Homo sapiens: one gene and its partners. The protein of the gene in region 1 interacts with the protein of each later gene in a pairwise test. Each region holds a gene or a part of one and is shown in the gene's direction. Other genes may lie near its edges.

Evidence for each region. Proteins that work in one complex are often made in the same cells at the same time.
Region 2: the proteins of RNF24 (region 1) and ABHD5 interact in binary tests that used the Homo sapiens proteins (3 or more experiments, as listed by UniProt).
Region 3: the proteins of RNF24 (region 1) and NT5E interact in binary tests that used the Homo sapiens proteins (3 or more experiments, as listed by UniProt).

What each region holds. Positions count from the first base shown.
Region 1 is NC_000020.11:3,942,540-3,949,567, reverse strand, and holds part of RNF24 (RING finger protein 24), read left to right. Parts: intron 1-1,288; coding exon 1,289-1,331; intron 1,332-4,349; coding exon 4,350-4,391; intron 4,392-7,028. UniProt on the Homo sapiens protein: May play a role in TRPCs intracellular trafficking.
Region 2 is NC_000003.12:43,714,938-43,721,965, forward strand, and holds part of ABHD5 (1-acylglycerol-3-phosphate O-acyltransferase ABHD5), read left to right. Parts: intron 1-9; coding exon 10-121; intron 122-2,733; coding exon 2,734-2,920; intron 2,921-3,505; coding exon 3,506-3,595; 3' UTR 3,596-7,028. UniProt on the Homo sapiens protein: Coenzyme A-dependent lysophosphatidic acid acyltransferase that catalyzes the transfer of an acyl group on a lysophosphatidic acid.
Region 3 is NC_000006.12:85,488,083-85,495,110, forward strand, and holds part of NT5E (5'-nucleotidase isoform 1 preproprotein), read left to right. Parts: intron 1-1,411; coding exon 1,412-1,517; intron 1,518-2,425; coding exon 2,426-2,575; intron 2,576-3,894; coding exon 3,895-4,095; intron 4,096-5,758; coding exon 5,759-5,922; 3' UTR 5,923-7,028. UniProt on the Homo sapiens protein: Catalyzes the hydrolysis of nucleotide monophosphates, releasing inorganic phosphate and the corresponding nucleoside, with AMP being the preferred substrate. Shows a preference for ribonucleotide monophosphates over their equivalent deoxyribose forms.

The sequences.
Region 1 (7,028 bases):
GGACCACAGGCCACACGCCACCATGCCCAGCTAATTGTATTTTTTGTACAGATGAGGTTTTGCCTTATTGCCCAGGCTGGTCTCGAACTCCTGGGCTCAAGCGATCCTCCTGCCTCAGCCTCCCAAAGTGCTGGGATTACAGGCATGAGCCACTGTGTCCGGCCAGGGTGAGTACTTTTATTTTTTTCAAGACAAAGTCTCACTATGTCACCCAGGCTGGAGTGCAGTGGCATGATCTCGGCTCACTGCAACCTCCGCCTCCTGGGTTCAAGTGATTCTCCTGCCTCAGCCTCCCAAGTAGCTGGGATTACAGGCATGTGCCACTATGCCTGGCTAATTTTTGTATTTTTAGTAGATTCGGGGTTTCTCCCTGTTGACCAGGCTGGTCTCAAACTCTTGACCTCAGGCCATCCGCCTGCCGCGGCCTCCCAAAGTGCTAGGATTACAGGCGTGAGCCACGGTGCCCAGCCTCGGTGTGAGTACTTTGAACCAGCAGTTCTACTCCCGGGTATATACTTAACAGAAATGAGTATATATGTCCACTAAAAGACATGTAGAATTTGTGTATCAGCTTTAATAATAGCCTCAAACAGGAAGTAATTAAATATTCATCAGCAGTAAAATGGATAAATAAATGGTATTATATTCATACAATGGAATACTGTATGTCAGTCAGAAAGACAATTACTACAACAATATGGAAGAATCTCACAAGGCATTGTAGACTGAAAGAAACCAAACACAAAAGAGTATATACCAAACGATCCATTTACATGAAGTTCAAAAACAGGCATAATTAATCTACAGTGTTAGAAATCAGGATAGTGCTACCTCTGGGGCATGGATATTGATTAGGAAGGATCATTTTAGAGGGCTCAGGTGTGCTGGAAATGTACCATGTCTTGATATGAGCAACAGTTATCCTGGTATGTACATTTTTTAAGATTTTGAGCTGTATACTTAAGGTTTTTATACTTCATTGGATGTATGTTATACTTAAATTTTTTCTAATTAAGAAAAAATATAAATATTATTGAAATAAGTAGACTGTCGGTATAAAAAGAATTGAGTCATCTTACGTTTGGGTAACATTTCATGGTTCCCTGGGCACTTTCACATAGCATGTTAAGAGATACATCATTTGGGTGTATTTCAGGGTAAAGATTCTAATTTATATCATTTGAGCCATAAATGTTATAAATTAATACCAAAATCAGCAACTTTTTATTTTTCTTCAAGTTACTATGTTGGAAATCTCAATATTGCATTACTAATTTCTGTCTTTTAGGCTAAGACATCAAGCACACAAAGAATTTTATGCCTACAAACAGGTGAGAAATTTAATTCAGATTGGCTTTGATTTTTTTTTTCCCCCCAAAAAACTGAGAACTCTGATTTCCACTCATACGTTAAACTGGGACTGAATTTACTTGTGTTCATTTTAGCATCTCACTGCCAATTTGCAGTATAATATATCAACTTCATTTTCTTAAGTATTCTTCTCTTCTTTTTTTTTTTTTTGAGACGGAGTTTCGCTCTTGTTGCCCAGGCTGGAGTGCAATGGCGTGATCTCGGCTCACAGCAACCTCCGCCTTCCAGGTTCAAGCTATTCTCCTGCCTCAGCCTCCCAAGTAGCTGGGATTACAGGCATGCGCCACCACGCCTGGCTAATTTTGTATTTTTAGTAGAGACGGGGTTTCTCCATGTTGGTCAGGCTGGTCTCGAACTCTGGACCTCAGGTGATCCGCCCGCCTCGGCCTCCCAAAGTGCTGGGATTACAGGCGTGAGCCACTGTGCCCAGCTTTTCTCTTCTTTTGTAAGCATTACTTGAAGCTGTAGAAAGTTCAGATGATATAATTTAACAGGAAACTTGAGCCAACAGATTGCTAAAGAGAAATGCTATAGCTTGTAATTCTTAAAGTTACTGTCGACTTAATGGAGTTCTGAGATACCATTAAGTGAAATTTTTCCTTCCTTCTTTATTAGAAGACATAGCAGTTCCTCGGAGGTGAGCGACCAGCTGTGTTACAGTGATCTCATCTACTCCCTTTTGTACTTTAAATGTTAGCTCATATTATCCACTAGAAGTCTGCAAACTTGGATCATAGCTGTCAATACCTAGTCCTTCACTGATTTTGTCTTTAAGTTAATACACTTATCTTTTCTCAAAGGCCAAGTAAAATTATTTTTTTCTTCCAAACAGGGGGCCTAGATTTTCCTTTGGCTCTAAGCATGAAATTCTTAATTTTTGTTACCCTTAGCTTTCTTCTTGGGTACAGGGGAGCTTCAGCTTATTTGAGTCTTTAACCTTGCTGACGCTGATGTTATGGAACTGTAACACTTCAGAACTGCGTATCTTGTTTTTGTTTGTTTTTGAGACGGAGTCTCGCTCTGTCGCCAGGCTGGAGTGCAATGGCAAGATCTCAGCTCAATGCAACCTCCGCCTCCCGGGTTCAAGTGATCTCCTGCCTCAGCCTCCCAAGTAGCTGGGACGACAGCCATCTATCTGCCACAACGCCCAGCTAATTTTTGTATTTTTAGTAGAGACAGGATTTCACCATGTTGGCCAGGATGGTCTTGATCTCTTGACCTCGTGATCCACCCACCTCGGCCTCCCAAAGTGCCAGGATTACAGGTGTGAGCCACCGCGCCCAGCCAGGACTGCTTATCTTTCTGTTCATCTTTCGTCCATGTATGTTTGAAATCTGAGCTCACTGGCACATTCCCTAGATGGACATACTGATGTCCTTAGGTAACCCCACACTCTTACAGGTCTCATGTGGGATCCAAAATCAGAGTTGAGTATTTTAGTTTTCTAAATGAATGAATCTTTTTGTCTCAGTCCTATCATAATCTTTTTTTTTTTTTTTTTTTGACGGGGTCTCTGTCACCCAGACTGGAGTGCAGTGGCATGATCACAGCTCACTGCAGCCTTGACCTCCCTGGGCTCAGGTGATCCTCCCACCTTAGCTGAGTGTGGTGGCATGCATAGCTGGGGCTACAGGCGCACACCACCACCCCCGGCTAATTTTTGTACTTTTTGTAGAGATGGGGTCTCCCCATGTTGCCCAGACTCCTATCATAATCTGTTTTGTTTTGTTTTGTTTTGTTTTGAGACAGGGTCTCGCTTCTGTCACGCAGGCTGGAGTGCAGTGGTGCAATCTCAGCTCACTGCAACCTCTGCCTCCTGGGCTCAGGTGAGCCTCCCAAGTAGCAGGGATTACAGGCGTGCACCACCACACCTGGCTAATTTTTGTATTTTTTGTAGAGACAGGGTTTTGCCATGTTGCCTAGGCTGGTCTTAAACTCCTGGGATCAAGCAGTCCGCCCACCTCGGCCTCCCAAAGTGCTGGGATTGCAGGCATGAGCTACCGTGCCTGGCCACGTATTATAATCTTGACAGCTTACAAGATATTTGTATGTAGGCTAACTAGAAAGTAAAATTGGCCTTTGCAGTCATTTAAGTGAAATTGACTGATAAAACTAGACAAGTCACAAGACATACAGTAAATTTGATCTTTAAAATATACTGGATAGGAAATTTAGTATATCCCTGTGAGGCCTTATAGTAGCTTCTGGTGTGATTTCTGAAAACAGGATTTACCCTCAAATCCATTTTTAGTTCAGGAATGTAAGACACCAAAATTTAGAGATTTTCCCTCAAATTTTACTTGCCTATTTTCTTCACTTTAAGATGAAATATAACTCTAATAAGCTATATTTAGTCTCAGAGTTTTTTCTTAAATAGTAAACTTCCTTCTTATCACTTGGCATTCATTTTAACTACTGTCTGGTCACCACGGAGTCAAAACTTTCAAAATTAAGATTGACTTACTTTTTTTTTTTTTTTTTGAGACGGAGTTTCGCTCTTGTTGCCCAGGCTAGAGTGCAATGGCACGATCTCGGCTCACTGCAACTTCCGCCTCCTGGGTTCAAGTGAATCTCCTGCCTCAGCCTGCCGAGTAGCTGGGATTATAGGCAGGCGCCACCACATCCAGCTAATTTTTGTATTTTTAGTAGAGACAGGGTTTCACTATGTTGACCAGGCTGGTCTCAAACTCCTGACCTCAGGCGACCCACCCGCCTTGGCATCCCAAAGTGCTGGGATTACAGGTGTGAGCCACTATGCTCGGCCAAAATTCCTTTTTTAGGAGAATATTGCATCATTGCTCAAGTTAAAAAAATGTTGCTAAAATGATCTGTCTCAAACTGTAAAAGAAATTCCCTTCAATATTGAATATGAGGGAAATGAGCCATATATACAAAAGAAAAATATTTGAGAATATAATGAGAAATATTTAAAGTTACAGATTTAAATGGGCATAAGAACATACTTTTTTGTCTTACAGGTTATATTAAAAGAGAAAGTAAAAGAATTGAATTTACATGAGGTAAGTTGATGATAAGTAAATCCTCTTGAGCCATTTTCTAGTAGCAGTGGTATGCTGTGGTATGTTTAAACACTTTTATTCTCAGTAGTTGAAAAAAATAGGCTTATTTTGATTGGGGTAATAGAATATTTCAGGGTGAGGTCACATAAAAATCAATTGTGTGAAGGCTTTACGAGAGTAATATAACTCATACTTTTAATAGTGATGACACCATTATAAAATTTCATAGCAGTAGGGATGCTGCTTGCCGTCCATGCTGTATGAATAGGAAACAGATACGTTAGTTTTTCTACTCAAGGTGAGTATGTACTAATTTCCCCATTGAAAATGTTCCCAATATTTCTTTCTTACCAATGGTACAAAAAAGAGAGCAGTTATCTCATGGGGGTAGGGATTGAAGAAGGTAAGACATACGGAACAGGGGAAGAACACACAGGTAGCGATATGAATCCTTGGGATTGTTTAGCTCTTCGGTTGCATGGTTGGGACATAGGTGCTTTGTAACTTAAGTACAAACTTGGGTGTGTATATCCTGCTGTATACATTAAGATACATAGCCTATAAGAATTCTTTTTCATTCTATTTCTTGTGTTGCCTCTGACTACAAACTTTCAGAATTTTTATTTTTTATCACCCTTTCCTTCTCCCTTTCTGGGTTTTCTAATTGGTGTTTAAAGCAAGGACTTGAAAAGCTGTGTGTTGTAATAGCAGTGTCGCATATAGCCTAGCTGTGGTGAAGCTAAATTGCCAGTCTCTTCAAAGAAAGTTAATTTGTTAGGTTTTTTGAATCATAATAAAAATAATCATATTATTGTTAAATATTTTGAAATCATCTATTGGTCCTTTGCTCTTTCTGCATATTTTTCATCAAAGAATTGATATGTTTCTGTTTAATGGCATTTTAGACCTAGCCTTGGATTAAACTGAAGCATTAATTACTGTTTGATTTTTTTTTTTTTTTTTTTTTGAGACGGGGTCTTACTCTGTCATCCAGGCTGGAGTGCAATGGTGCAATCTCCGCTCACTACAAACTCCGCCTCCTGGGCTCAAGCGATTCTCCTGCTTCAGCCTGTCGAGTAGCTAGGATTATAGGCATGCGCCACCACACCCAGCTAATTTTTGTATTTTTAGTAGAGACGGGGTTTCACCATGTTGGCCAGGCTGGTCTTGAACTCCTGACCTCACGTAATCCACCCACCTCGGCCTCCCAAAGTGCTGGGATTACAAGCGTGAGCCACGGCAGCCGGCCACTGTTTGATTTTTTACTTTTCCTAGAAGTTAATTTTGACACATGGCCAAAATTAACATGAAATAATAAAAGTGGTCTGTTTCCCATTTGGAGTCTTTTTGATGACCGTAAATGAAAAGATTAAATTTTTACCAGATTAATCCAGAACAGAAGTCTTCCTTACTGGTGTGACCTGTTAGTTTAGAAACTTTGTCCTGAATAAATACATTGTGTGTTGCATCAGTATGTATCATAGTTAGTATCCAACTACACCCACCAATTCCTGTTTCGCTGGTCATTTGTATCTAGTCTTGGATTTTTTTCACCATAGTATCCCCAGCTTTGGTTATGGTGAGTTGCTTTCTTCATTGAAATTCTTTTGCACCTTTTTCAAAAATCAAATAGCCATATTTTTTGTGACTGTATTTCTGGATTCTCCATTATATTCTCTTGATTTGTGTGCCTGTTTCTTCATCAGTACCACACTGTCTTGATTATTAATAGCTTTATAGTAAATCTTAAAATCAGGCAGTGTGATTCTTCCAACCTCATTCTTTTCCAAAATTGTTTTAGCTAGTCTGGTTCCTTGACCCTTCCATGTAAATTGTAGCATCAGCTCATCTGTATCCACAAAAAAAAAAAAAAAATCCTGCTGGGATTTTGATTTATATTGCATTAACTCTATAAATGTGTTTGGAGAGAATTGACCTTTACCATGGTGAGTCTTCTGACCTGTGAATACATTATGTCTATTTATTTATTTGAAGCTCTGTTGTTAGTTGTATACACATTGAATATCTTCTTGGTGAACTGACCCTTTTGTCAAGGTCTCTCGCCGGGCTGGGTGGCTCACACCTATAATCCCAGCACTTTGGGAGGCCAAGGCAGGAGGATCACCTGTGGTCAGGAGTTCAAGACCAGCCTGGCCAACATGGTGAAACTCCATCTCTACCAAAAATACAAAAATGAGCCAGGCGCGGTGATGGACACCTGTAATCCCAGCTACTCGGAAGGCTAAGGTAGGAGAATCACTTGAACCTGGAGGCAGAGGTTGCAGTGAGCTGAGATCGTGCCATTGCACGCCAGCATGGGCAACAAGAATGAAACACTATCTCAAAAAAAAAAAAAAACTGTCTTCATCCCAGGTAAATTCCTTTGCTTTGAAATATTTGTCCAGGCCAGGCGCGGTGGCTCACGCCTGTAATCCCAGCACTTTGGGAGGCCGAGGCAGGCGGATCACAGGGTCAGGAGATCGAGACCATCCTGGCTAACATGGTGAAACCCCGTCTCTACTAAAAATACAAAAAAATTAGCCGGGCGTGGTGGTGGGTGCCTGTAGTCCCAGCTACTCAGGAGGCTGAGGCAGGAGAATGGCATGAACCTGGGAGGCGGAGCTTGCAGTGAGCTGA
Region 2 (7,028 bases), on another chromosome or scaffold:
GTTAAATAGGTTTAAGTCTAGTGCAGCGTTTAAGGCCTGATTTCAAACGAAAGTATTCTTCAATGTTCGAAGACGATACTGTGACAGAATACATCTACCACTGTAATGTGCAGACTCCAAGGTGAGGGTTAGGATTCTCAATTCACTCTGTGTGTGTGTGTGTGTGTGTGTGTGTGTGTGTGTTTGTGTGTGTTTTAGACTATTTTTTTTAAAACTATTTATTTATTTATTTATTCATTCAATACGGGGTTTCGCTCTTGTCACCCAGGCTGGAGGGCAATGGTGCGATCTTGGCTCACCACAACCTCCGCGTCCTGGGTTCAAGCAATTCTCCTGCTTCAGCCTCCTGAGTAGCTGGGATTACAGGCATGTGCCACCACGCCCGGCTAATTATTTTGTATTTTTAGTAGAGACGGGGTTTCTCCATGTTGGTCAGGCTGGTCTTGAACTTCTGACCCCAGGTCATCTGCCCGCCTCTGCCTCCCAAAATGTTGGGATTACAGGTGTGAGCCACCGTGCCCGGCCTTTGTTTAAAATATATCAGTGGTCCAGAAGATTTGTATCAGTAGTTAAATGACTGAATTTAAAAGGACAAGTGTCTAATACATTTTATTTTACTCATCTATTCTTAGAGTACCCACTGTATAAAACATTGTGCTGAGTTCTGATGGGGGATTAAGAAGTAACATGTTCACTCTTCCCTCAAAGTTCTCATGAACATGTTGAGAAAGTCTTGGTCTTGGGCATCTCCAAGAGATGGTTTGAGTTGAGAGTTGAAGAATTTCACATAAAGAAGTATTTCCCAAACTGAGTATGAATGTTTCAAAAAAAGAAAAAAGGGTGCTGGATTAAACAAAAGTAAATGATTGTCTATACTATGAATCCTCTTAGAACCTTTACTATACCGAAGGGTATTGAATCTCCCAAGTGAATGGGAGATGCTATGTGTATTTTTCAAGTTCATTTGATGATTGTACTCCTGAACAACTCTAAAGATCTGTAGGTCAGCATTAGAAATGCAGCTGCAGAGGGTGAGGAGTAAGTGAGGGATTCTGCATGTATTTTGACAGTGATTAGAAGGAGAGAGAGAGAATGGGGCATAGTAGCAGAGGGAGCAAGAGGGCCAAATGTATGTTTTAAAAATATGACTTATGGATGTTGGGTGAAAAGTACCAGTGGAGAAAACAGAGCCTGAAGATAGTGGGGGGCTAGGAGGAGGCCGAATGATAAGGCCCTAGAGTTTCTAGGAAGAGCATCAAGAATAGAGTGCAAAGATGAGAGCTGCAGTTCTCATGCTATGTTGTGTACTGGAATTATTGGGGGTGCTTGTTGAAATGTGACTCCTGAGGTTTGTTTCTAAGACTAATATTAGCATTTCTGGGCTGCATCTCTAACAAATACTCTGGTGATTCTGTATAGGTGAACTATGGAGCACACTTTAAGACAGAGAAGTGGTATCTCATCCTTTCTAAGACTGAGGTTTGGATGAAAGGCTAAGAGGCGAGATGCAGAGACAGCCTCCCTCTCTTTTATTTCCTCCCTCACTTTTGGCAGAAAATATGTACACCTACTTTATTAAAAAGATTGAGGCCATGGTAGCTATTTATAGGTAGCTGTAGCCTCAGTCTTTTTAATAAAGTAGGTTAGAGGTTCTCTGCCAAGAGTGAGGGAGGCTAGAGGTTCAAGGTCTTCAAGAGATTGAGGTTTTGTGAATTGCTAGGCAGTCAGGTTTGGTGGATTAGGTCTACACACTTCCAACAGTTTTTTTTAGGGGTCTTCCCCGGGAACATCATTCATTTTCCTGCATGGCGTAAGTTTTACTCTTCACGTACTCTTATTTCATGATTACATGTGTTCGTGTAGTCCTAGTTTGTTACTTTGATTGTAGTGAGACTTGAATTCTTCATAAAAGGCAAGTTAGAATGATGTCTGGTTTTGTAAGAATAGCAGAAGGGACCAGGCGTGGTACTCACGCCTGTAATCCCAGCACTTTGGGAGGCCGAGGCGGGCAGATCACAAGGTCAGGAGTTTGAGACCAGCCTGACCAACATGGTGAAACCCCGTCTCTACTGAAAATACAAAAATTAGCTGGGCATGGTGGTGCGTGCCTGTAATCCCAGCTACTCAGGAGGCTGAGGCAGGAGAATTGCTTGAACCCGGGAGGCAGAGGCTGCAGTGAGCTGAGACTGTGCGTGCAGCTGCACTCCAGCCTAGGCAACAGAGCTAGACTCCATCTCAAAAAAAACAAAAAAAACAAAAAAAAAAAATGAATAGCAGAAGTGACAGCAAGATAGACCTATCCTGAGAGCTTGCAAGAATATATTGTCTGAGTTTCTTCTTAACTTGGTAATGGTTTTAGCATTGCAGGTGAAACGCTGGTGCCATGAACCTGGGGATAAGCTACCTTCTACATCAGTTTAAATAAGGACAAAAAAACATATTTTTAACTATCTCCACAATAAATAATTTAATGATAGAAAATTAGGGTTGTACATTTTGGTTTACAAGAAAACTTTTTTAAAAATCAGCTGGAGTATACAACAGCCTTGCTTATCTAACAGTGATCTGTGAGATTTGTTCCTTACACTGTCTCATAAATTATTTTCTATTTAAGCTGAGGTTTTTCTTAGGTGCTGGAAAAGCTAAATATGAATGTGTTTTGATAGAAGTGACAGTGCAATGCATACTCATTCCCAAAAATCATACATCGTGATTTTCTCCTTGCCGTTAAAGTGGTGAGACAGCTTTCAAGAATATGACTATTCCTTATGGATGGGCAAAAAGGCCAATGCTCCAGCGAATTGGTAAAATGCACCCTGACATTCCAGTTTCAGTGATCTTTGGCGCCCGATCCTGCATAGATGGCAATTCTGGCACCAGCATCCAGTCCTTACGACCACATTCATATGTGAAGACAATAGTAAGTGTGTGGCTTGATTTGGGTTTTTAGGTATAGGTGAGGTCCGTTTTATTATCTCCCTTAAAAGAGGTTTTAGGTCATCCTCGTGTTGCAGGTCATCTGAGCCATACCTGCAGCCTCAGTCGGGGACGTGATACCACCTGTGATGGGTGCAGGGTTTGGCCTGCACACATCTTCATGTCCAAACCGTGAACTACCTTTCTGAATGACTTTTCCTGTCCCTAGAGCCACAGCATTAGGAGAGATGGACAGAGGGATTGGTCCAGTAGCACTTCAAGTAATTCCCACCTCACAAGGCAGCACACTCTCACTTTTTTCAGTTTCTCTGTTGGCACTTTTATTAGTGGTCAATTTAGTGTTTTTTGCATATTAAAATTTTATTGAGATTCAGTAGATTTTTCTATTCTCAGATCCTTTTAATGGATATACTTAATAGTTACTATAGATTATTGTTATTTTTTAATCACGTGTTTTATTTAAATACAGTGGCTCTCACTTTTATTACTAAGTGTCTTTGCTTATATATCATTCTGTTTTATTAAATGCTTTTACTCACTAACTGTCTGAATGCTTTTCCTTATCCAGGCTATTCTTGGGGCAGGACATTATGTATATGCAGATCAACCAGAAGAATTCAACCAGAAAGTAAAGGAGATCTGCGACACTGTGGACTGAACACACTGAAGCTCTGATGGGAAAACCTGGTGACTGATATAGTTGTTCAGCAATAATTCATAGTCTGTGATGAAGAGTAGTGAATACAACACACAACCAGGCAGCCTTCTTGACTATACTTTGCACATGTTTTCTTTAGGAATTCACTCACACATTTAAACCAGTTAGTGCCTTCTAGAAGAATGGCTTTCCTTTCTCCTACACAAAATTGAAATATACAAGTCTCTAAATATAATACCTTTAAATAAAAGGTTATTTGTCCCTCTGATGTACTGAAAAACTGTAATTTTTCAGCTGAAAATTTTTTAATCTAACTTTGCTAGTTATTTTTATATTGCAATCTATATTACCAATTTAGGAAGTGATTTCTGAGTCTCTTACACTGTAAAGGTGCACTTTATTTTCTTTGTCTTCCCCATCATGTATTTATTGTGTCTTGATAACTGATATTAATCTAAATTCAATGTGTTTTTATGTAAAAATTTGTCAGTTGTTTAGAATATTTCACTTTGTTTTTGAAACGGAGTGACAAGGCAGATTTTTGGTTAGAGGACGGGAGTTGATCACTATCATTACTTTTTCTAGTTTACCTGTTTTTTATATTTAAGGCTGCTAAGCCATGTTCAGCATTTTAAATGTGGTCTATCCTGACATACAGTGTATAACAACATAACTCCTTGGAACCTCCTATGTGTGGTATAATTCTACTCTTCCAAGGAACATGACTTCAATACTTTCAGTGATTCAGGTACTGAAAAGCCTTACCTAAAAGGCTGTTCTTTGTTTCCCCCTTTCATACTATTCTTTTCCATGACCCAGGATGCAGCAAATGAAACAGATTTCTTCTCTTAAGGGGATATTAAGACTGTTACTTCCTAGTAAGCCAAGTAATACCATATTTTTATTAACATCTAACTTTTGTAGATGGGTGCTAAAATTGCATACATTTTAACCACTAAAATAGAAAAACAAGTGGTGCTATTATGTCTCATGGCACCAGAAATGAGCTAGCACTTGGGTTTGTTGTTGCTGTTGTTTATTAAGAGTATTGTGTTAATTAAATCATTACATACTTGAAGTTATATTACAAAAATTCTAGAAGGTTGATTGAACTATTTTTTTAGGAACTACCATCAAGTGTAGCATTTTCTTGCAGTTTTAAAATGAGGAAAACTTCTTTGAAACTGTGAAATGCTCCATGTGGTAACTGGCTGCTGAGAAAACCCTTCACCAAAAAAATAAATAAAAATTGAATAGGATTGTCATCAAGAAGGCATCTTTCGCTAACGTTGCTTGTCTAGGAGAAAGGTAGCTATGTAAATAAAAACAGTGAACTAGAGCAAATAGTGGTTTAATGGTTTTGTTATTGCATTTTTAAAATGGTTAATTAGGGAATTTGTAGTTGTTAGGAAATGTAAGGTTGTGTCACTGTTGATTAACTGCCAGAAAGACTGAATGTTCTATTTTCAACATTTCTCCCCTATAAAAGAATAGACAAATTATACTGAAGCATGATATAAACATCTTCCCAATGAACAATTTGTCTCACTTGTCAGATTAACTAGGTTAGTGCAGGAAGCAACATGAGCGCCAAGATGTGTTGTCTGATTTCTCTACCTTAAGAACAATAATAGTCTTTTTAGTTAGTATTTTGGATGGCCAGGTTTCAAACCTGTATGTGGTACAAATAATTTGGGTAATATTTTTGTATTTTTGTTTTACACACTCTCTAATCTCAATTATCCTTTGCTGGGAGAATGACAGGTTTCACTTATACAGGAAGGTTTTTGCACAGGAAATTTGGTCCCAGCCCTTGGAAGGAAGAAGTTCCTTCGTTTACTTAGTGAATGGAGTTTCTGGCCGCAGATGTGCCAAGTGATTGAAGAAAGATATACCCCAATATCAAGTGATAATTTATTTTCCTACAGACTGAATTTGCTTTATTTGAAAGATGTTGTAACTCTTTTTAAAGTTAGATTTTACCCTGAGGTATAGTATATGTAATTTTGTGAAGATTGAGCTGGAAGGGAAGTTCACAATCCTCACATTTAAAAAAATATAGTGGGTGCTAAATGTTTTCTTAAAAATCTAGTACAGCATTTGATCTTTGTTATGCACAGCATACTTTTATTTTACAGAATAAATTTTCCTGTGATAGTCACAACAAGACAGCTGTATAGTTTCTTGAGTCTTTTGTATGGACCAGTCTCTGTATAATAGTTAACTACAGGACTGTGGATCCAGCAAATGTTCAGTAAATGCTGCTGTTGTTCTTAGGGAAGGCTACTCTGGGTGTTGTGGCCGCCATACATGGCTTTACCTGGGTCCATGCATTCCCTTAAGATGACTTCTGTTTTCTTCTTTTTTCTTCTGATTTTCCAAAAAAAAAAAAGCCTTGCCTAAGGTTGGTTTTAGAATATGATTTGCAGAACACTTTTGAAATGTCTTCATTCATATATGTAATATATATTTATACTTAAAGGGCCATACGCGATTTCAATAAAACAAGAAGTACTGGAAAGAATAAACAAAAATAGCCAGAAGATGCCTAGAAAAGAACAATGTGGAAGGAGGGATAACCCTATTAAATATTATAACATAATGTTTACAATATGAGAAAGTCTAGGAATTTAGTACATGATAAAGCATCTCATTCAGAGAAAAAGGCTTTAAAAATGGTGTTGAGAGAAGTGTGGTTAACCATTTGGAAAAAAAAATAAAATTGAATCGATTTCTCACAGGATACACAGGATAAAATCTGAATAGAACAAAGACCCAATTTTTAAAATGAAACCCTCTTTCTAACTAGAAGAAAACATAGATGAATTATTGTATAATCTGACAGTGAGAAAAACTTTCCTAGGACTGAAAATTCAGAAGCAATAAAAAGAGAAGTCTATAGAAGAATTTTCAGCCAGATGGAATGGCTCATGGCTGTAATCCCAGCATTTTGGGAGGCTGAGGCAGAAGGACTGCTTGAGACCAGGAATTCAAAACCAACCTGGGCAACCTAGTAGGACTGGCTCTACCAAAAAAAAAAAAAAAAAAAAATTAAGTACCTGGCCTGGGTTCCACCTACTTGGGAGGCTGAGGTAGGAGGACTGTGAGCCCAGGAGTTTGAGGATGCAGTAAGCCACTGCACTCCAGCCTGGGTGACAGAGAAGAAAAAAGATTTTTTTGGATAGCTGAAAATATTTGCAGCATTTATCACAGAGGGCTAATTGTAGCCCTATATATGAAGAATTTTAAACTATGAGAAGAACCCGAAGAATAGGCAAAAGGATGTGAACAGACAGTTAACAGAAAATAGAATGCAAATGGTCTTTAAACATACAAGGATATGCATAAAAAGACAAATGCAAAATAAAATAAAATAATGGAAATACCTTTCTTACCTGTGAGATTGGGGAAAATCCAAGTTAGGCAATGCACT
Region 3 (7,028 bases), on another chromosome or scaffold:
CTCTTTCACAGGCACAGAAAGACAACACACAGTTTTAATGGTAATAACAAGTCCTATGGCTGAGCAAGACCAGGTATGAAGAACAAGCCCGTCTACTTGTCACCAGGCGGAATGGCCATGGTAGCTCTCTGGGGGCCTTACTGAGCCAAGGTCTCCTATGTCGGACTACTACTTCCATGGGCTCACAGCCTGCACCCAGGGAAGTCATTTCTGTCAGTGCTTGGCATGCATTGCCCAGTGCCCAGGATACAACTGCACTCGATAAATGTTTGCCGTGTAAATGACAACAATCATGCTCATGCCAAGACCAGACTCATGATGTCTCCTCAGCATCATGCAGTCAATGCCAGAGAAGTAGTTAAGGAGAAGCTGGTATATAAATGTTAAGAGAAGTCTGGAGGGAAACAACCCAGGCTGTTGGCAGTGCTTATCCACTCTGTTAAAGAGGCTAGGACAAAGGAGAGCTTTTGCTTTTTATTTATTTATTTATTTAATTAATTAATTTATTTATTTATTGAGACTGAGTCTTGCTCTGTCGCCCAGGCTGGAGTGCAGTGGCATGATCTCAGCTCACTGCAACCTCCGTCCCTTGGGTTCAAGCGATTCTCCTGCTTCAGCCTCCCAAGTAGCTGGGATTAGAGGTGTCCACTACCACACCCAGCTAATTTTTGTATCTTTAGTAGAGACGGGGTTTCACCATGTTGGCTAGACTGGTCTCGAACTCCTGACCTTAGGTGATCCACCTGCCACAGCCTCCCAAAGTGCTGGGATTTACAGGTGTGAGCCACTATGCCTGGCCTTTTTTTTTTTTTTTTTTCGGCTTTTTGTCTCCTAAATGAGAATATATTCATTTTATTTCTTATAACTAAACATATATTTTGTAAAATAAAAGTAAGAATGGATGTGATTCTCCCCAGCTTCAAAAGGCTGTCTCTGTCTTTCCAAAATTGCCAACTTGGGAATCAGCTGCAGACATAGACGTGGAGGCCAGGTTCTCTTTGGCATGAGGTCTGGTGTTGAGCAGGCTCTAGGGCCAAGCCCTCAGAATCAGGCAGAGGGCATGGCCTGCCCTGGAGAAGCCTGTGCAGGAGTGACTCTGCAGGCCACCTTGCATGGGAGGCCCAGTCCCGACACCAGGGCTACAACCGAGAGACCATTTTGCTAAGGCCACCTGGCCTGACAGTATGGGAGTTTTAGGAGGGGGAAATAAGAGTTTGACATGGACTGGTAACAGTATATTTTTACTTCTGGGAGCATAAAATTAGTTCTAATTATAGTTGAGAGATCCCTGGGAACACAGCAGCAGGTGAAAAGCAGCTTTATTTCCTCACTAGAGCTAACCAGATTCCTGGAGCTGATCCTAAGGAAGAAGAGCCAGAGTAACTAGTGTAAATCTGTGCTACTGTTGCAGATTAACAACAACCTGAGACACACGGATGAAATGTTCTGGAACCACGTATCCATGTGCATTTTAAATGGAGGTGGTATCCGGTCGCCCATTGATGAACGCAACAATGGTATGCTCCCAGGCCCAGCTCCTCAGTGTGTCATGTTCTCTCTCTGATCTCCTTTTCTGTTATGGTTCTTGCCCTGAACACACCCATGTGCAGCCTCAGTTCATCTCTGCTGCCAGCCATGTACCAGAATGTCAGTCCTTTAAATTAGGGTTAGCCATTATTAAAGTCTAAAACCTAGCCTGAAGGACACACACAAGCTTGTGTGTTCTTATATGTATTCACACACAGAAGCTGCAGGTAAGGTTAGTGGAACTCAAACTTGGTCTGAATTTCTGACTTACAAAGCTATACTAGTTGTTTCTGATTTATGCAAAATAACAACAGTCACCACCTTGGCATCTGAAAAGAGACAAAATCACCAATCTTCTGTCCTGAAAAAGACATACCACTGGATTAAAATGTTACCTTAGTATATTTACAGATATCCAAGATTATATCATATGGCAAAACAAATCAACTACACAAATACTCAAGACACTCTTGTAGCCCTCCCTGATTTACTGTGAAAACCAATCAGTATCAGTATAAGGCCCCAAACGCATCCCATTGTCAGACAACAGGGACAGGTTGCAGGGGCACATTGTTTGTCTGGAGGAACGGAACAATGCAAAACAAACTACTGGAGATCCAGCCCCAAGCTAGCAGATCTAAGACTGAGCATGGTGAACTTCTGAGGCACAGCCATTTGTGAGCTCCCGCCATCTTGCCCAGTGGTGGAGTGCAGGGCCAGAGGCCTCCTAAACTCATTCCCTTCCTCAGTGTCAGGAACCACTTAGACATAGCTAATGATGCTCTATAAGCTTCCCATGTCCCCCTCATTTCTTCCCCCAGCGCTGAGGGAAACTGGTCATGGTGTAAGCATTTTCTCAAGCTATTTTCCTTCTTGCCTCATCTGTGACTACCCTCAGGCACAATTACCTGGGAGAACCTGGCTGCTGTATTGCCCTTTGGAGGCACATTTGACCTAGTCCAGTTAAAAGGTTCCACCCTGAAGAAGGCCTTTGAGCATAGCGTGCACCGCTACGGCCAGTCCACTGGAGAGTTCCTGCAGGTGGGCGGTAAGTCACCCATCCTGTAGGGCTGGCCCATCCAAAGTGACATGGCATTTCCTGCTGGTTGGCTCAGCTTCCCCTTCACCAAAATTCCTGTGGTCAAACTGGTTTGGATTTTTCCCGACCCAACACCAATACCTTACCCTTTAATGGCTGTGGACTCTCAGAGCCACTAAGATTAGGTTGGGGTCAAAGCCCCAAAGCCCCAAAGCCCTGGCAATAAGCAGTATTTGCCAAGTCTGATTTGGACATCAGATGGGCCCTCTAAGCAGGTCACCTGCTTTGAGGTCTAGTTTCTAATAAAATCTTATTTAAGCATTCAATTATTTTTTTTTTAAATCCTCTCCTCTGTTCTACTCATCGTTGCCTGGAACCATGCCAAGATTTAAAGGAATGCTGTCCAATCTGTATTAACCAGGATGATTCCTGGAAGGAGCAGCCTACTGCACAGACATACCTGAACACCTGGTTCTAGTCCCACTGTGACCTGGGGCAAGTTCTCAACCCCTCTGGGCACAGGGAGAAAACCTTTCCTGTTTATCTCATGGACTGCAGTGAAAGTTGAATGGAAATAAATGCTTCCTAAATTGCCAAGGGCTTCTGAAACACTTTTGTTAATAATTCCACAGTCCAGTGAATTAATCCTTTAAAAGCAATCTTATTTTACCTGGAAATCATAATCTGGCCTCATTTTTTTAACCTTAGGTTGTGGTCCCGCTTGACAGATAGAATTGCTTTCCTGAGTTTTCCTCTGCAGAACACATTGCTGTTGAGACTGAAGGGCTACAGAAGGCAGTGGGGCCCTGTCCTAATGCCTATGGGGCAACCCAAACATCCTCCATTTTCCCAGAAGGGAGTTGAGGGAAAAGCAGTTTTCTGATGCTCTAGCAAAGCACTGCATAGCTCTATGCCTTGTGGAAGTCACCAAATCCCAAATGATTACCATTTAATGGTCTTCAAAATTGTAAAATGCTCTCTGCCTCTGATCTGTTTCTCACTTTCTAAGGCCATTGAATCAATTTAGTAGACCAATTCAGCATTTTAAGGGAAAAACAGAAAAAGATGTGGTTTTGTCCATGTAGAGTCACCCTTTGCCTATTCTGGTCCAGAGCTGGTTTTCCTTCCAGTGGTTCTCATATGTCCTGTAAGGACTCAAGGATAAAGGGTGGCTGCAATGTCACAATTCTCTTGACAAAATTTCACTCAGGTTTAAACCAAAGGAAAAACCACAGCCCCATGCCCCAATTGTAGAGTTTGGCCAAAATTCCTTAGGAAACAGAAATCTCCCTTTGGATCTGGTGAAAACAGATTCATTTCTTTTCTAGGAATCCATGTGGTGTATGATCTTTCCCGAAAACCTGGAGACAGAGTAGTCAAATTAGATGTTCTTTGCACCAAGTGTCGAGTGCCCAGTTATGACCCTCTCAAAATGGACGAGGTATATAAGGTGATCCTCCCAAACTTCCTGGCCAATGGTGGAGATGGGTTCCAGATGATAAAAGATGAATTATTAAGACATGACTCTGGTAAGCATGACTGTCTCTTCCTTTCTCTAAAGAACAACAAAATTGGGCCAAGAAGGGGAGCTACTAGTGGTGCCAGGAGGGCAAAGTGACTCCCTGTATTGCTGACTCCCTCCTGCTTTGCTTGTTGGAAAGCAGCAGCACAGCACAGCAGAGAGGAATATGTACCCTGTCAATCCCCGAGCACACACATGCCTTCATCCAACCCCAGAGACAAAACATTTGTAAATCAAAAATGTTTTAAAATTCTTTTAACTACATCTAAGCAGCTATTTAAATTGTGAAATATAAGTGAGTTTTGCATTAACAGAAATATCACACCTCTGGAATTTTAGGATATGGAAAACCATCACATTAAATCATTTAAATTTTCTTTCTTGAAGAAGTTTCTGTGTGAATCAGTCAGGTAGAAGTGGATGGGGTGAGCGCCGCCCTTTCAGCACAGTGGGTTGGTGGTACAAATCATAGGAATAACCATACTTGATGTCAGTTGGTACTTCTGGCAGCATTGAGGGACATTATATGCCAGCCTCACTTTTAGAAATTCTGTTGAGAGTCACATTATGTGCATACAGACCACTGACATAGGACACACTTCCCCTTCCTCTTCCTAGGGCAGAGACCAGCATGCTTACAAGACACACAAGCAGCTTCTTGGCATCTCTGGGTAGTTCCACCAGGATCTTCCTCAGTCTTATCATGCTGGACCTGTCATTTTAGCTACTTATTCCAAGGAGCGTGGAGGGCAGGACCAGACCAAAGGAGGCAGCCCTTCCTGGGAGGAAAGGTGCTGGCTTCTTCTGTCCCTTCCGTGACAGAAGATGGAAGGGCAGGCGTAAAAGCCCCATGAGACAAAGAGGCTGATAGCCATCAGCTGTCCACCACTCAAGCCTAGACTGAAGGATGTTAGAGAGAGGAGCTCATGCAGAAGGCTAAGGAAGCCCTGGACCTAAGCGTTCTCAACACTGGTTATACATTAGAATCACTTCAGGAGCATTTTAAATTAAATACCAATGGCTCGGCCGCAGCTCTTAAGAGATTCTAAGTTAACTGGATTGGGGCTAAACTCTTTTTCAGTGATTCTAGTGTACACCCAGAGGTGAAAACCACTGAAGAGAGAAGGGTTCTTAAGTACTGGAGTGATATTTTTAAAATAAAATTCTGTTGGGTTCCCAACAGAACATGGGTTCCCAACAAACATGGGTTTGTTGTAGCTATAGGCAATTAGCATTTATCCTCTCCTCTCTTTGGTAAAGGAAATCCCCCAAGTCCCATCATCAATTACATGAAAATAATTATTGGGCAGGCAAACAAAAGGAAGCCAGTTTTATCTCTCAACTAATTGCTCTTGACCCAGTTCCCTAATGCCCTTGTTCTGGAGTGGTTCAAAGGCTATGATGTCAATGACCTCTTTCTAGAGTCATCACAGAGCTGAGGCAACTCTACTTCCCCCAATTACCCAATATTGAACAACAGACACATTTTACATCTGGAGCATGAAAAAGCAATCAAATTCTTTGTACTTATGATCACTAGCGTTCTTGTCTTCTGTGACACTTTACCCCTGCTTATGAAATTGCTTCCCTTTTATAATTACAAAGGACTACCTTACTGTTGATTGATAATTACCTTTTCTGTAGTTAAAATAATGTATATGTTTTTCTAGGTGACCAAGATATCAACGTGGTTTCTACATATATCTCCAAAATGAAAGTAATTTATCCAGCAGTTGAAGGTCGGATCAAGTTTTCCACAGGAAGTCACTGCCATGGAAGCTTTTCTTTAATATTTCTTTCACTTTGGGCAGTGATCTTTGTTTTATACCAATAGCCAAAAATTCTCCTTGCCTTTAATGTGTGAAACTGCATTTTTTCAAGTGAGATTCAAATCTGCCTTTTAGGACCTGGCTTTGTGACAGCAAAAACCATCTTTACAGGCTCCTAGAAGCTGAAGGTTAGAGCATTATAAAATGAAGAGACAGACATGATTACTCAGGGTCAGCAACCTAGTGAGTTAGAAAAAAAATTAACATAGGGCCCTATAAGGAGAAAGCCAACTATGTTAAGTTTACGTGTCCAAATTTTAATGAAATTTTACTAACAATTTTAAACCATATTTTTCTTCTTCATATCCATTTCTAATCCATCAAACAGCTTATGTTTACATAAAATTTTATCATTCACAAGGAAGTTTTAAGCACACTGTCTCATTTGATATCCACAACTTATTTTTGGTAGGAAAGAGAGATGTTTTTCCCACCTGTCAGATGAAAAAACTGAAGCTCAAAAAGGGTTGACTTGACCATACAGCTAATGCTGACAGATCCAAGACCTAGACCTAGGTCTTTTGAACTCAAGTCCAGCATTCTCAACTATATCAAGTTACTGTTCAGAATACTTAATATCTCCTCTCTTCATAATTATCAATAGCCCCAAGCTCATGGATGACAAATCTCTGCTTTATTTCTTGTCTCTATTTTTTCACTTTATAGCTCCTGTTATAATAGCAAGTTTAATGGTATAAACACAGGATACCATCCTCTCTTGCAACACCCATGTGCCTTTGATGAGTCAGGTAGCAAGCTGTAGTAGATAATGAGAAAGGCCAGAGGCTGCAAAAGACAGTCAAAGGACACGAGAGAAAGGAAGGGGAAGAACAGGACTCCAGGACTGTTTTATATTATAGAAAAGCAAGAGCTAAAGAGCATTTACACATGTTAAACAGATACTTGTTAAGCATAGTGCCTGACACACGGCATTAGCTGTTATTTTATGAGATTCCATCAGCTCTGCCTCTGTCCTCTTTCTTCTAACATGAAGGTATCATGAGAAGAGAACCTTCTAACATAAGCTGTAATTCTAAACCTGCACTTGTCCCTCTCCAGCAAGAGGCTAGCACTGAATTCATTCTACTCATACTACACACCCAGTTATGGA